Regions from separate parts of the Homo sapiens genome. Here region 1 is linked to region 2. The links come from fine-mapping of genetic effects on gene expression. Tissue or cell type: monocytes after LPS. Region 2 holds a variant in brackets; the other region holds the start of a gene. All regions are shown on one strand. Distances are between the middles of the regions.

Region 1 (8,180 bases), 150 kb after region 2:
CAGAGAGTATAAGGGAAAGTATAGAAAATACAGAACTGGCCGGGCGCGGTGGCTCACGCCTGTAATCCCAGCACTTTGGGAGGCCGAGGCGGGCGGATCACGAGGTCAGGAGATAGAGACCATACTGGCTAAAATGGTGAAACCCTGTCTCTACTAAAAATACAAAAGATTAGCCGGGCATGGTGGTGGGCACCTGTAGTCCCACCTACTCGGGAGGCTGAGGCAGGAGAATGGCGTGAACCGGGGAGGTGGAGCCGGCAGTGAGCCGAGATCGCGCCACTGCACTCCAGCCTGGGCGACAGAGCGAGACTCCGTCTCAAAAAAAAAAAAAAGGAAAAAAAGAAAATATAGAACCTCCGGCATAACGAAGGGATGCAGAGATTGAGGGAATCCATTGCAGAAGCATCCACAATGTGCAGAGTGGGCAGAACTCTAGATTTATGAAGAAAGAAACCAGCATTCATGGAGGGCCTATTGTTTGCCAGCCCTGACATGAGCTGCTCGCACACGTATTAGCACTGAGATGCAGTGGCTCCCGGCTTTGCCCCTGCTGAGCTATGTGATTTGGGGCAAGTAAGTCACCTCCTCTGAGCCTCAGTTTCCTTTTTTTTAAGACGGAGTTTCATTCTTGTCGCCCAGGCTGGAGTGCAATAGTGCGATCTTGGTTCACTGCAACTTCCGCCTACCAGGTTCAAGCGATTCTCCTGCCTCAGTCTCCCAAGTAGCTGGGATTACAGGCACATTCCACCATGCCCGGCTACTTTTGTATTTTTAGTAGAGACGAGGTTTCATCATGTTGCCCAAGTTGGTCTCAAACTCCTGTCTTCAGGTGATCTGCCCGCCTTGGCCTCCCAAAGTGATGGGATTACAGGCGTGAGCCACCGCGCCCGGCCTTAAGCCTTAGTTTCCTTATTTGACAAATCACACAGGGGGCGGGTGAGAATAAGCGTCTGTGAAATCGTTCAACATATCTTAAGGAGGCATTCACACAAGGAGCCCAGTTCAGGGGAGTGTGTAATGTCAGTCTCTGGGCTCAGCTGCCAAAGCTTAGTCTGGACTTCCATGGCTACCATCTCCCAGCTTTGAGGATCTCAATGTCGGGAGAAATCAAAGAGCACAGCATCCATCTCCTCTGCACAACCTACGCCTACATGGCTGACCTAGGAGCTAGACCACATAAATCTCGACCCAATGAGTCTTCTCCCACACCTGACTTCGGAGAGAAAAATCAATTCATCACACAAAATGTACTGTGAGAAAGCGGGCCAAACCCATCCCCTGGGCTTTACAGAGGAGAAGAGCCAACAAGCTGCATCTTCCTGCTGAGTTTAGGCTTTTCACTGTTGGATATCAACGCAGAGGTCCAGATGTCTTGCAGAGGGATAAAGGCTCCTGACCACGGCGGGCTGTCACTCCAAAAAGAGAGAAATGGCCCCAGTGCCAGTCCCTCAGAACCCAGGCCAGGGCTGCAAGGAAATCATGTAAAGGAAGAAGCCTCAAGACCCTGAAGAATACCAAAGGCCATCTCCAAGAGAACACTCCAGAGCTTGCCTGGTTTCCCTTCATTCAAACCATAACCAGTCAGTACTCCACCTTTCTACCTCCTTCCCCAACCTCAGTTACTCTTCCATCTCCCTGGTTAGCCCCCAGCTTTCCCCCTTACCTCTCCCCTCCTCCAGCAACCACGGAAACCTCAGCCATCCTTCACCTGATCCAAACCACCAACCACATCTCCATCCAGCTTTAAAAGGGAGGCCAAAACCACCCACTTCCCTGACCTAGCTCTGACATCGCTACCCAACACTCCTACATCCCAAGTCATACCGCTCACTTGATTTGATCCCCTTTCCTTAACAGTCCATGGGCTCTACCACCAGCCTGGCCTCTGCCTCCAATCATAAGACATCCCTCCCCACACTCAGCTCAGGTCTGGTCTACAAACTGAGCATGCTCCCAAGACTCTTTCATGAACATCATATAACCCCAGCACCTCAGTTTCGCTCCCATAAACCTTCTGGGGCCTGCCTTCCTGACCTCTTGGTCACTCCATAAACCTGCTCACCTGCCACACTCCAAACAGCTCTAAAACCCTCCACCTTTTCCCAGAAACCAGTCTACCTTTTCGAAGGACACTTAATATTCATTAATTCCTTCTGCAAATATGTCTTAAGCATGTACTGGGTGCCAGGCACTGTTCTAGGCACTGGAGCTAGAGCAGTGATCAGAGCTAGGAGCCCTCAAGCAGTGTGTGTGTGTGGCCAAAGCACTTTTATAATTTTGGCTGTCCCATCCCCAGGACCCCTCTGTATATAGTAGTGTAACAGCAAACAGTGACAACTCACTATGTGCCAGGAGCTGTGAGCAACACTGCAGAATCTCACTTAATACTCACATCAACCCCATAAGGCAGATCCAACTATCATTCCATCTTACAGATGAGGAAACTGAACCACGCAGGGATATAATAATTCAGCAGGAATATGCCAGACCCTGTGCAAAGCCCTTTATCCGACTTACCTCATTTAAACCTCACGGCAATCCCATGAGGCAGGTTCTGAGAACGTCCTCATTTTAGATGGGAAGAAACTGACGCTTATAAAGGATACTGATGATAATGACAATAGTGAACATTTACTTCGAGCTTACTTTACCGGGTAGGGCGCTACGCACTTTTCCTACTTTATCCCATCGAATCCTCACACCACCCAGCAAGGCACATCCCCACTTCTCAGATGAGGGAACTGAGGCTCAGGACGGCGAAGCAACTTGCCCAAGGTCAGCGCGAGGCAGGTGGTAGTCCTGAGACTCGAACCCACGTCTCTCCAACTCCAGAGATCGCGCGACTTGACCAAGGTCACACGTGAGGCAGGAACAGGCGCGATGACTGGACCCGGCGCGCTTGGCCCCTCCGCCCCGCGCCCCAACCTCCCCTCGGCGCGGTCCGGAGCCCCTCGGCGCACCCCTGGGGCCCAGACCGCCGGGCTGCCCCGCCCGCCCGCCCCGCACGGGCCGGCACCTCCCCGCCCGCCTGCCGCCCCGAGGCCCCCGCGGGCCGCGCCCGGCAGGGCCCGCGCCGCCTCCGGCCGCTGCGGCCCTCACCGCTGTCGCCGATGATGAGCAGCTTGAAGAGGTGGTCGTAGTCCCGGGCCATGGCGGGCGGGGGCGGTGCGCGCGGGCGGGCGGGGTCGGTACTGGCCTCGCGATCCGCAGCTCCCTTCGGGCTGCTCCGGCAGCGGCGGATCCACTTCCCGAACAAACAGCCGGAACTGACAGAAACACCTCCCTCCGCTCCCCCTCCTCCTCCTCAGCAGCCGCCGCCGCTACCACCGCCTCCCTCCTTCCCGCCCCGCCCCACCACTGCGCAGGCGCAGCGTCTGGCACCGCCTTGCGCAGCCGCAGCCTGAGCCGGCCGCGCCCGGGTCGCGCACGCGCCCTGACGGAGTCCCAGCAAGCGCGGGCCCGTCTTCCTCGCGTCTCCTCGGGGAGCGTCGTCGCCGCCACCCTGGGCGCTGAGAGCTTGCGGAGCCGAGCCGCTGTCGAGTCCCAGCGGAAAGAAGCCCAAGGTGCCGGAGAAGCCCGGTCGTGGACGTTGTTGCTCCCTCATCTTCGAGACCCGCACGCCCTGCGGAGAGGAAATGACAGGCACGCCGCGACCGTGGGGCGGGGCTCGCACGAGCTCCGGGTTTCCAGAGGCAGGGGCCGGGGCCGTAGAAGGCAGAGTCGCGCGGGGAAGGCCCGGTACCCCGCCCCTTCCGCACCGACCCCTCCCCCGCGGAGCTGGCCCCGGCCCCGGGCCTGTGGAGTGGACGCCGAGGGCGGCGGGCGGCTTCCGAGTTGGACAGAACGGGAGCTGCCGGCGGGAGCAGAGCTGCGAGGAGGTGGCCTTTGAGGGCAGCGCGGGGTCGAAATCCCATCCCAGCGCTGTGACCTCTTGGAGCCCACATTGCCTCTTTGGTGGAGGGGAGGGAGTGGTCCAGCTCCGAGCCGAGCCTGGGAGCTGAATGACCCAGTGTGCAAGGCGCACCTCGGAGACCGAAAGCAACCGCTCCCCCGGCTTCAATTTCACACCACCTGCAGATACACGTCTCAGAATCTGCGGCTAGGAAGACCTGGGCCGCCAGAAGCTAAACGTGTGCATTTTGTCATCAGCCCCGGTTTCTCGTTTTAGAGTGAGTTCCCACCTGCCCTACCTAAACTGACCTGAAACGGAAAGTTGTATGCCCCCACGACCATCCTCACTGCAGAACTGCAGAGGGTTTTAAGCTCCTTATTACCTGTTTCTTATAATCCTGTCCCTTTCCAGGCGAGTATTTATCGGATAGTTCTACTTGTTTTATCAAACTTCCTTTTCTTTTGACTTTATAAAAAGCAATGCCGGGAGGCTGAGGCGGGAGAATCGCTTGAACCCGGGAGGCGGAGGTTGCAGTGAGCTGAGATCTCGCCATTGCACTCCATTCTGGGCAACAAGAGCGAAACTCCGTCTCAAAAAAAAAAAACAATGTTCGTCCTTAAAATTATGTGCAGAAGTTTACTGAAAAGTACAAGTTACTATTTTTCCTTCTGAAGCACTCCTCACAGGTAACCCCTGTTAGTTTCACAGGTAACCTTAAAATGCTTAACACATATTTGTTGAATGAATAAGTGCCCCCCAGTGAATTTCCTTTGCCTGTACAAACATATATGTACATACCTTGCTTTTTCTATTTAACAGTACACTTTTATCATTTAACATCTGCGTGGTATGGTACTCCATCCGATAACCATCGGATGTACTATTATTTAACCACTCCGCTATTAATAGACATTCATGCTGTTTATATTTTTTGGTTATAATAAACATTGTTGCAGGCGGGATCATTGAACAACACATGGAGTGTCTGACTCAAGCCTTGAGTTGTTTTTCCGGGAGCTGAGAATCAGTGTGGTGATATCGAAATAACATGAGCTTGGAATCTGAAGGTACTGGCTAGGGAGAAGAGCTGCTCATGTGCTCCCGATAGAAAGTCCCCCTTGGTCGGGAAGGTTAGGGCCATCCTCTGACTCAGCAGTTTTAGGAAATAGAGGGGGAGAAGGAAGGTATGTACCTTCCTTCCACCAGGGAGGCACGCCCAGCCCTAACCAGCCAGCGAGGCAGTAGGTCCTCCTAGCTCATCTTCACAACCTGGGCTGGTGTCGGGAAGACTTTCGTTCCAATGCTAGCTTTGGAATCCTGGCCTCCATCCCTTAAAAGCTTTGTGATCTTAGGTAAGTCACATCACACTATCTCAAAGCCCCCGTTTCCTCACAGAATGGTTGTTTTAGAGTTATGTTTGTAAATTACCTGGCACATGTAGGCATGTGACAGACTGTAACCAATGTTACTCAAGGTCATTTTGCACTGATTCATACTTTGAGCCATTTCCTACTGTAGACTCTAGCACACATTTTCAAGGCAGCTTCCTGATAATAAGGCTGTAGGATATTTTTGGGAAATAAATCCAAATTGGCCATTAAAACCAGATTCCTGACTTTGCCTGCATGTGTCATCTGGAAAGCAATCGGCATAAATTCCTTCATTTCTTTGGTAACTATTTAATGAGTGTTTATGTGCCACGGATTGCAGAGGTTATAAGAAGAGAGCCTTAGGCCGGGCGCTGTGGCTCACACCCATAATCCCAGCACTTTGGGAGGCTGAGGCGGGAGGATCACGAGGTCAGGAGTTCAAGACCAGCCTGGCCAAGATGGTGAAACCCCATCTCTACTAAAAATAAAAAAAATTAGCCGGGCACGATGGCAGGCGCCGGTAATCCCAGCTACTCGGGAGGCTAAGGCAGGAGAATCGCTTGAACCCGGGTGGCAGAGGTTGCCGAGATTGCACCACTGCACTCCAGCCTAGGCGACAGAGCAAGACTCCGTCTTAAAAAAAAAAAAAAAAAAAAAGGAACAGAGCCTTTTCTCACCAGTTCACAGCCTCATCAAGAGTTAAGACATACTCATGAGGAAATTGAAAGTATAAGACAATACAGTAGATAGAAAAGCTGTCAGATATGCAGTCTAGACTTCAGAGGAGGAAAGCTATAGCTTTTAGTTAGAATGATGGGGAGAAGATTTTATCATAAAGATGTCATGATGGCACTGGAATAGGAGAGCTTTGAGTGTCTATTTAGACAGTCCCTGTCACAGTCTATGAGAATCATCATTTGGCTTGGAGGGGAATTCCCTGCAGGCCAGGGTATGTGCCTGGCATCTCAAAATGAATCAGCACATTTTCTTCTGGAAACATTGTTAGACATTTATTTAAACTACAGTTCAGTGATGAGTTATGTTAAGCTTTCTTTCTCCTTCTCACTGTATACATATGTAAACTTGTGTGACCTAAAGGATCAGTGTGTCCAGTAATGGGAAACTTTGTTCCACTGCTCTGAACAGCTAACTTACAGATGAACTTTTGCAACACCACCTGTTTGCACATTAGAAACTATTAATACGATGAGGAGGCATTGAAAGTTTTTGAGCAAAGAGGCAATCTCAAAATATTTTAGTGAAGTAATCTGGCAGGGTGCAGGATGGATTTCAGCTGCAGAGCTTTAAAGGTTATTGCTGAAGCCTGGGTGTAAGGTAACAGCAGGGACAGATGCAAAAGACAATAAGCAAACTTATAAACTAGACAAAGCAGCTTCCAAAAAAAAAAATCACGTAATTTACCTGGTAACTGGATTCATCCTTAATTCAGTAAATATTAAGTGGCCGGGTGCAGTGGCTCACGCCTGTAATCCCAGCACTTTGGGAGGCCGAGGCGGGTGGATCATGAGGTCAGAAGATCAAGACCATCCTGGCTAACATGGTGAAACCCCATCTCTACTAAAAATACAAAAGAATTAGCTGGGTGTGGTGGCACACGCCCGTAGTCCCAGCTACTCGGGAGGCTGAGGCAGGAGAATCACTTGAACCTGGGAGGTGGAGGTTGCAGTGAGCCAAGATCGCATCATTGCACTCCAGCCTGGGTGACAGAGCGAGACTCCATCTCAAAAAAAAAAAAAAAAAAAAATTTGCACAGTTACTAGGTGTTAGGCACTGTAGTGGGCACAGAGGCTAGAACATGAACAAAACAAAGCTCCTGTCCTCACGGAGTTTACAGTTTAGTGGGGAACAAGTCATTCACTCATTCAACAAATACTTGAGGGCCTACTATGCCAGACATTGATCTACGAGCTGAGGATTCAGCAGTAAGTAAAATTTTAAAATCCCAGCTTTCATAGAGCTTATATTCTGATAGAGAATACAGGCACCAAGTATGTCCAAGGAGAAAAGTAAAGCAGGGAGCACGCTGAGGTTTGCAGAAGCAGGCAGTGGAGCCACAGAGGTGGCAGGAAGTTTGGCAGTGGATGACAAGAGAAACAATGCTTGGTGGTGAGAGCAGTGGGGCTCATGAAGTATTTTTCAGGATAGTGGAAGCAGAGGATTAGCAGCCAGGAAATAATAAGGAGTGAATATTTGGAGGGAAGATGAGCTAAGGGCGCTTCAAAGAGCTTTGGGAAGTAAAGTGTCACCAACCAGAAGGCTAAGTGGGTAAAGGAGAGGGGGACCTCAGGCCCTCAAGGGTAGCAGTGTCAGGGATGAAGATCAGTGCAGTGGAGGTTGGAGGGACCTGTGAAATCCATTATTTCAGACAGCAACATGGACTTCAAAGCTGCTGAGTGCTAGGTAGCAAGGGAGGGAACGTGTGCTGTGATCATCCAGGAAGGAAGCAGTGGGTGGTGAATCAGAACTCAGAGAAGGCAGGTAAACTGACCGACAGGGACTTTAAATTAGGAGCAAGATGGGGACCACTCAGCATACTGGTCCAAGAGGGAAGGAAGAGAGGATATGATATGATGCCTGGTGTCTCCCTCTGATGGAAGTGGAAACGGGCCCTTTCTCCCACACCTGCAAGCCTGATGCCACACCAAGAGACTTGGCAGTGGGCCTTGCCCTGCCCTGATGTAGCCCCCAGAAATCAAGTGAATGTAAGTTCCATGATTCCAGGGACCATCTCTTTATCTGTATCCTCTGGAGACCCAGTGCCTGGTAGGTGCTTGATACCTGTTGAATTAAAGTGAAGCCACACACACAGTGTGAGAGTTGGACAGAATGTCAGATACAATTAGTTGAACCCTCTCTTGAGTTCACTTTTTGGGGTGTGGGCCAAACTTGGGGTCTAA
Region 2 (8,180 bases):
AGTCATGGAGAACTTCAGGAGAAAAGTGAACAAAAAGCAAGTGAGGTTGGCAGCCCGGGCCCATACAAGTAATGTACTCTTCACTCTTCTCCAGGTAGCTTCAAAATAGAAAAGCTTCCCCTCGCACCTGTAGCCCCAGCTACTCGGAAGCTGAGGTGGGATGATCGCTTGAGCCTGGGAGGTTGAGGCTGCAGTGAGCTGTGATCTCACCACTGTACTACTACAGGCTGGGCGACAGCGTGAGACCCTGTCTCAAAAACAAACAAACAAGCAAACAAACAAACAAAAAGCTCCTTCCTTCCTTAGGAAATTGTCAAAGGTCGGTTTCCTATAGTAACAGTTTGTGGTCACACCAAATTTGGAACCTGTATTACACAAGAGTCTAATGAGATTCCACAACCTAGCTTGAGTCCTGCAGACTTAATCTTAGCCTTTGAGTCAAATTCCATTCGTATAAAAAGAAAAGTAATTTTTAACATGGAAGTTGCAGCTGTCTTTGATATAAAATTGTATCCTTCACTTTTCACTTTCAAAACTTCCTCTCACTGAAACAAACTATCCAGATTTATTTTTAGACATCTCAAAGAAGCCCAGTTACCGTAATAACCTAAGTGTTAAATTAAAGGCAAGAACTTTCTGTAAATATTGTTACTACAGGTTGACGTAAATTACCAATATAGCAGATAAGCTTAAGTCATCACAGATTAAATTCTGCTTTTATGGTTAATTATAATAGAATGATAAGCTTATTTGTGTATCATTTATTCAAATCTGGACGTTCATCAGAACCACACCCAAACCATCCTATTTAAACCACATTCGAGCCTACCACCCCAATTTTTAAAAGCAGCCCACAGCCTGTAAAGTCGGTAAATAATTCTAGTGTCTGGACTGGGCTTAGTGGCTCATGCCTGTAATCCCAGCACTCTGGGATGCCAAGGTAGGTGGATCGCTTGAACCCAGTAGTTCAAGACCAGCCTGGGCAACATGGTGAAACCTGGTCTCTACAAAAAATACAAAAATTAGCCAGGCGTGGTGGTGGGCACCTGTAGTCCTAGCTTCTTAGGAGGCTGAAGTGGGAGGATCACCTGAGCCTGGGAGGTCAAGGCTGTGGTGAACCATGATTGTGCCACTGCACTCCAGCCTGAATGACAGAGTGAGACCCTGCCTCAAAAATAAATAAAATAAAATAAATAATAATTCTAGTGTCTGGCAACCAGCATTTCAGAGAATGTTCTTTGATATTTAATAAAATCCTTCAGTGCAATTAAAGAGTAATTGAGGCTGGGCACAGTGACTCACACCTGTAATCCTAGCACTTTGGGAGGCTGAAGCAGGTGGATCACTTGAGGTCAGGAGTTCGAGACCGGCCTGGCCAACATGGTGAAACCCTGTCTCTACTAAAAATACAAAAAATTAGCTGGAAATTGCTTGAACCCAGGAGGTGGAGGTTGCAGTGAGCCGAGCTTGGGCCACTGCATTCCAGTTTGGGCGACAGAGCAAGACTTCATCTAAAAAAAAAAAAAGAAAAGAGTAATTGATCACCACCTTCTATAAAATAACAGAGTATGTTATTACTTCTCTCAGGTTAGATAATCCTATTCACTCACATTTTCTTTGTAAGTTCCATTTAGCAATTTTATCCATATTTTGTGAGTCTCTGAACCATTGGCTCGTTTTGGTGTCATGTATTAACACATAATTAGTAACAAAATAAATGGCGACTAGTCCAGCTCCCTGCTTCGGTTCCCCTGGGCCAAGCCTGATTTTGCTCCAGTAGAAACAGTCAGTGCCTGTCCCAGGCTTTGATCAGCTTCATTCATTCAGTCAGTGCCTGTCCCAGGCTTTGATCAGCTTCATTTCATGTTATTATTTCTGCCCCCCAAGCCCTGAAATATCTTATATAGTGGTTATCACCCATGCCTGATCCCCTAATTTAGCCCCAGAATTTCCCCAGTCTCATCCAAACTCCTGAAAATGGCATAAAATTCTCTTTCTGTCATTGGCCTATAATTTCTTTTTCTTTTCTTTTTTTTTTTTTTTTTTTTTTTTTTTTTGAGACAGAGTCTCCCTCTGTCTCCCAGGCTGGAGTGCAGTGGCAAGATCTCAGCTCACTACAACCTCTACCTGCTGGGTTCAAGTGATTCTCCTGCCTCAGCCTCCCAAGTAGTTGGGATTACACGCATGCACCACCAAGCCTGGCTAATTTTTGTATTTTTAGTAGAGATGGGATTTCACCATGTTGGCCAGGCTGGTCTTGAACTCCTGACCTCAGGTGATCCGCCCTCCTTGGCCTCCCAAAGTGCTGGGATTACAGGCGTGAGCCACCGTGCTCAGCCTTGGCCCAGAATTCTTAAAAGGGACAATAGAGAAAACAACAGACAAAGTGACAACAAACAGGCCTCGTATGACCTAAAAGTTTTGTCCCTTTTGGCCTCTCTCAGTCAATTAAATTCTACAACTTAAGAGCTTTGCTTTGGATGTTGACAATAAATTTCTAGGAAGGTTAAAACATATGCATATGTAATCCACAGCCGTTATCAGTAATGACTGCATTGACATCAATAAATTTCTCATATTGACATCATAAATGTCTTTACTGACATCATAAATTTCTCAAACAGTAACTTTACTGGGTTGTGGGAAGCCCGGATCTTAGGGTACTACCTGGGGTTGGGGGTGATTTGTCTCACCATAGTAGAAAATCTGGAGGGTGTAGCGTGCTTGGAAGCAGGGGAAGAGGCACCAAAAGAAGAGGTGAGAAGACAACCAAAATAAATCTTTCATAATGTTTTTTTTTTTTTGAGACGGAGTCTCACTCTGTCACCCAGGCTGGAGTGCAGTGACATGATCTCGGCTCACGGCAACCTCTGCCTCCCAGGTTCAAGCGATTCTCCTGCCTCAGCCTCCCAAGTCGCTGGACTACAGGTGCCCGCCACACACCCAGCTAATTTTTGTATTTTTAGTAGAGATGGGGTTTTGCTGTGTTGGCCAGGCTGGTCTCGAACTCCTAACCTCAGGTGATCCACCTGCCTCGGCCTCCCAAAGTGTTGGGATTACAGGCATGAGCCACCATGCCCAGATGAATCCTTCACAATTTTATTTATACTTTGAGAATAAGAGTTATGCAAGCTGGGGCCGGGTGCAGTGGCTTATGCCTATAAATCCCAGCAATTTGGGAGGCCAAGGCAGGAGAACTGCTTGAGTCCAGGAGGTTGAGGCTGCAGTGAGCCACGTTTGTGCCACTGCACTTCAGCCTGGGCAACAGAGTGAGACCCTGTCTAAAAGAAGAAGAAAAAAAAAGTTGTGCAAGCTGGGCATAGTGGTGTGCCTGTAGTCTCAGCTACTTGGGAGCCTGAGGTAGGAGGACTGCTTGAGCCCAGGAGTTTGAGGCCACCCTGGGCTACATGATGAGACCCTGTCATTCCCCCACCACACACACACACACACACACACACACACACACACACACACACACACACAGAATTATGCAGATTTCAACAGAAAAGAAGCTTGCCTATGTGCTCTATGAGGTCAGACTTTGCCTATTAAGAGATTTCATAAGGTAATAATACCTTGGAGAATTTGTCATCAATAACAAGATTCAACATTTATATAGTAGTTGTTATGTGCCTGGCCATGGTCTGAAAGTCTTAGAAATCTGATTTTGGGGCCAGACGTGGTGGCTCACGCTTGTAATCCCAGCACTTTGGGAGGCTGAGGAAGGCGGATCATGAGGTCAGGAGTTCGAGACCAGCCTAGCCAACATAGTGAAACCCCGTCTCTATAAAAATACAAAAAAATTAGCCGGGTGTGATGGTGGGCACCTGTAATCCCAGCTACTCGGGAGGCTGAGGCAGGAGAATTGCTTGAACCCGGGAGGTGGAGGTTGCAGTGAACCAAGATTGTGCCACTGCACTCCAGCCTGGGCAACAGAGTGAGACTCCATCTCAAAAAAAAAAAAAATGAAATCTGATTTGCTAGCACATGCCTGTGGTCCCAGCCACTCGGGAGGCTGAGGTGGGAGGATCACTTAAGTCCAGGAGGCAGAAGCTGTAGTGAGATATGATCGCATCACTGCAGTCCAGCCTGAGGGACAGAGTGAGACCCTGTCTCAAAAGAGAAAGAAAGAAAAAGTAGAATGACCATATGATCTGGCTATTCTACTTCTGAGTATAAAACCAATAGAAAGCAGGACTCAAGAGATATCTGAACACCCATGTTCATAGCTGTATTGTTCACACTAGTCAAAACATAGAAGCGGCCGGGCGGGTGGCTCACGCCTGTAATCCCAGCACTTTAGGAGCTCAAGGTGGGCGGATCACGAGGTCAGGAGATCGAGACCATCCTGGCTAACACTGTGAAACCCCCCTCTCTACTAAAAATACAAAAAAATTAGCCAGGCATGGTGGTGGGTGCCTGTAGTCCCAGCTACTCGGGAGGCTGAGGCAGGAGAATGGCGTGAACCCATGAGGTGGAGCTTGCAGTGAGCCAATATTGCGCCACTGCACTCCAGCCTGGGTGACAGAGTGAGACTCCATCTCAAAAAAAAAAAAAAAAGAAGTAGAAGCAACCCAAGTGTTCATGACAGACAAACTGATAAACTACGATATACACATACAATGGAATACTATTTAGTCTTAAAAAGGAAGGAAATTCTGACATATGCTGCAATATGGTTGAACCTCTAGGACATTATGCTAATTGAAATAAGCCAGTCACAAAAGGGCAAATACTGTATAATTCCACTTATATATGAAGTACCTAGACTCAAATTCCTAGAGACAGAAAGTAGAATGGTGGTTGTCAGGGCTGGAGGGAAAAGGAAAAGGGGAGTTACTGTTTAATGGGGACAGAATTTCAGGTTT[C/CT]TTTTTTTTTTTTTTTTTTTTTGAGATGGAGTTTCACTCTTGTTGCCCAGGCTGAAGTGCAATGGAACGATCTCAGCTCATTGTAACCTCCGCCTCCCAGGTTCAGGTGATTCTCCTGCCTCAGACTCCCGAGTAGCTGAGACTACAGGCACACACCACCACGCCCGGCTAATTTTTGTATTTTTAGTAGAAACAGGGTTTCACCACGTTGGCCAGGCTGGTCACGAACTCCTGACCTCAGATGATCCGACCGCCTCAGCTTCCCAAAATGCTGGGATTACAGGCGTGAGTCACCGCGCCCGGCCAGAATTTCAGTTTTGCAATATGAAAAGAGTTCTGTGTATGAATTTTGGTGACGGTAGCACAACAATATGAATATCCCTAACTAATGAACTACACCTAAAAATGGTTAAGATGGGGCCAGGTGTGGTGGCTCATGCCTGTAATCCCAACACTTTGGGAGGCTGAGCAGGTGGATCACTTGAGTTCAGGAGTTCAAGACCAAGCCTGGCCAACATGGTGAAACACCATCACTGCCAAAAATACAAAAATTAGCTGGGCATGGTGGCACATGCCTATAGTCCCAGCTACTGGGAAGACTGAGGCAGGAGAATTGCTTGAACCTGGGAGGCAGAGGCTTCAGTGAGTCGAGATTGTGCCACTGCACTCCAGCCTGGGTGACAGAATGAGACTTCATCTCAAAAACAAAAACAGGGGCTGGGCACGGTGGCTCATGCCTGTAATCCCAGCACTTTGGGAGGCCGAGGCAGGCAGATCACGAGGTCAGGAGTTCGAGACCAGCCTGATCAACATGGTGAAACCCTCTCTCTACTAAAAACACAAAAACATTAGCCGGGCGTGGTGGCATGCACCTGTAATCCCAGCTACTCAGGAGGCTGAGGCAGGAGAACTGCTTGAACCCAGGAGGCAGAGGTTGTAGTGAGCCAAGATCACGCCATTGCACTCCAGCCTGGGCAACAGAGTGAGACTCCGTCTCAAAAAAAAAAAAAAAAAGAGATGAAGGAAGGGAGGAGGGGAGAGAGGGAGGGAGGGAGAGAGGGAGAGAGGGAGGGAGGGAGGGAGGGAGGGAGGGAGGGAAGGGAAGGGGAAAAAAGGCCAGAAGGAAGGAAGGGAAAGAAAGAAGGGGGAAAATAAAAAAGGCCAGGCGCGGTGGCTCACGCCTGTAATTCCAGCACTTTGGGAGTTCGAGGCAGGCAGATCATGAGGTCAGGAGTTCGAAACCAGCCTGGCCAACATGGTGAAACCCCGTCTCTACCAAAAATACAAAAAAATTAGCTGGACATAGTGGTGCGCGCCTGTAATCCCAGCTACTCGGGAGGCTGAGGCAGGAGAATCACTGAACCTGGGAGGCAGAGGTTGCAGTGAGCTGAGATCAGGCCACTGCACTCCAGTCTGGGCGACAGAGCAAGACTCCGTCTCAGAAAAAAAAAAAAAAAAAAAAAAAAAAAAAGCTTCTCTATGATGACTTATGCCTTTTGTTTTTTGTTTTCAAACCTGAGCTGTTTTCACAAGGCCAATACATCAGCTCCTATATTTGCCCTCATATTGTAGTGTAACCGGTTTGTCCTGTTGAATTTCATCCAGTATGAGACTCCCTATTTTTTTTTTTTTTTGAGGCGGAGTTTATTCTGTCACCCAGGCTGGAGTGCAGTGGCGCGATCTCAGCTCACTGCAACCTCTGCCTCCCGGGTTCCAGTGATTCTCCTTCCTCAGTCTCCCAAGCACCAGGGACTAGGGACTACAGGCGTGCGCCACCACACTCAGCTGATTTTTGTATTTTTAGTAGAGACAGGGTTTCACCATATTGGCCAGGCTGGTGTCGAACTCCTGACCTCGTGATCCACCCGCCTCGGCCTCCCAAAGTCCTAGGATTACAGGCGTCAGCCACCACGCCCTGCCTGAGACTCCCTATTATATGGTGTCATTGTATCAGCTATACCATAGAAATGTGCAACACGGAACACAGCATCTCAAAAATACAAACAACATTGTTACTACTTGCCAATTAAAAGAACAGACTTTCAATCAAGTTTCATGGTTGATAAACAAAGCAATTGGATATTGGGTTGACATTAACTTTGACAATTTTAACATACTTGTTTTTTTTAGATCTGCAAGAAATACATCTACCAGCTGGGTGCAGTTGAACAAAATCATTACAGGATTAGCAGTTTTCTGACCCACTTACTAAAAAGAAGCTGAATCACTGAATTGAGACCCCAGGGAAATGCAGATTTATACCTTTGATGTATTTCTTGATTTTTCTTAAATTAAATTCTATAATCAGTTTTTGAGTCTTTGCCATCTATCTTTTAATTGGGTGATTTCATATGTCTTCTTGAATATAAGCCTTTTCAAAGTTTTGATTTTCTGTAAATGCAAATGCATAATAAAACATACATATAGCTTTGTTCTATGCAATTATTTTCTAAACCCATCAGGAAGGCCTGCTTCTTTCCATCATCCCTTCCTTTATTAGATAGGGAGTGGGTGGGAGAAGTTGGCTGTCAGGAAAAGGAGTCCCATGCACTTTGATGTAGATGGGAGTTGAGGAAAATGGGGAAATGGTCACTTGATCCACAGGCACAGAACCCTGTTCAGTTCCCTGTCCCACTGCCAGATCTACCCCAATGGTTTTCCAAACATGGGACGATCTTCCTCCTCCTGTCAAGTGTTCTCATTTCTTCTCCTGCATCAATTGTAGTTTTCTCTAGGATGCTTTCTGCTGGATGAGGAAGAACTTTGCATTTTCAATCCCACTGATACATTTGTCATCAACTCACTCTTTTTTTGTTTGTTTTGTTTTGTTTTGTTGAGACAGGGTCTCATTCTGTCACCCAGGCAGGAGTGCAGTGGTGCAATCTCTGCTCACTGCAGCCTCAACCTCCTGGGCTCAAATGATCTTCCCACCTCAGCTTCTCAAAGTACTGGGATTACAGGCATGAGCCACCGTGTCTGTGTGAACAACTCGCTCTCATCATTGCTATGTATATTGATTTCACGCTTGCCTTTTTCCCTATATAGGTGAGAGGTCCTTGGCCATAGCCAAATCAAAGGGCCTAATTATCTGATTCTTGCTATTTTTCCAGTTTTCCTGTTTCTGGCAAGACACCATCATTCTGTTTGTTGTCCACATTGGTAACCTCAGAGGCATCTCTGAATCCTCCTTTTTCTTCATTCTCACTCTCTAATAGCTGATCAGACTCCAAATTTAGCAATTATTTCTCTTGTTTATAACATCTCTGACCTCTGTCTTCCATTCCATCAGAACTTCCATATAGATTCTTCCAG

Alleles and levels. Positions count from the first base shown, and alleles are read on the strand shown. Sizes are in standard deviations (SD) of each study's normalised expression.
For the expression in monocytes after LPS of the gene that starts at base 3,254 in region 1, allele CT in region 2 goes with a higher level than allele C (moderate effect, 0.44 SD a copy in Quach 2016).

What was found. PIP is the estimated chance that this variant, and not a neighbour inherited with it, causes the effect.
Region 1: RAB35 starts here. The variant in region 2 is fine-mapped to the expression of RAB35 in monocytes after LPS (Quach 2016, PIP 0.91).

The regions. Positions count from the first base shown.
Region 1 is chr12:120,113,500-120,121,679 of GRCh38, forward strand. It overlaps RAB35 (RAB35, member RAS oncogene family), which reads right to left and starts at 3,254. Exons shown (of 6, transcript NM_006861.7): 1 at 3,100-3,254. The coding sequence starts at 3,151. It overlaps RAB35-AS1 (RAB35 antisense RNA 1), which reads left to right and starts at 3,408. Exons shown (of 1, transcript NR_182302.1): 1 at 3,408-5,504. RefSeq lists enhancers at 2,445-3,237, 3,238-4,029, 4,822-5,613, 5,033-5,132, 5,163-5,232 and 2 more and silencers at 2,955-3,084, 3,185-3,494, 3,655-4,004, 4,095-4,154, 4,142-4,320.
Region 2 is chr12:119,968,020-119,976,199 of GRCh38, forward strand. It overlaps LOC112268087 (a long non-coding RNA gene), which reads left to right. Exons shown (of 4, transcript XR_002957391.2): 4 at 6,999-7,178. Among named protein-coding and RNA genes, the nearest start is that of BICDL1, 17 kb to the right of the region's middle. The variant C/CT (reference allele first, on the strand shown) is at 4,869.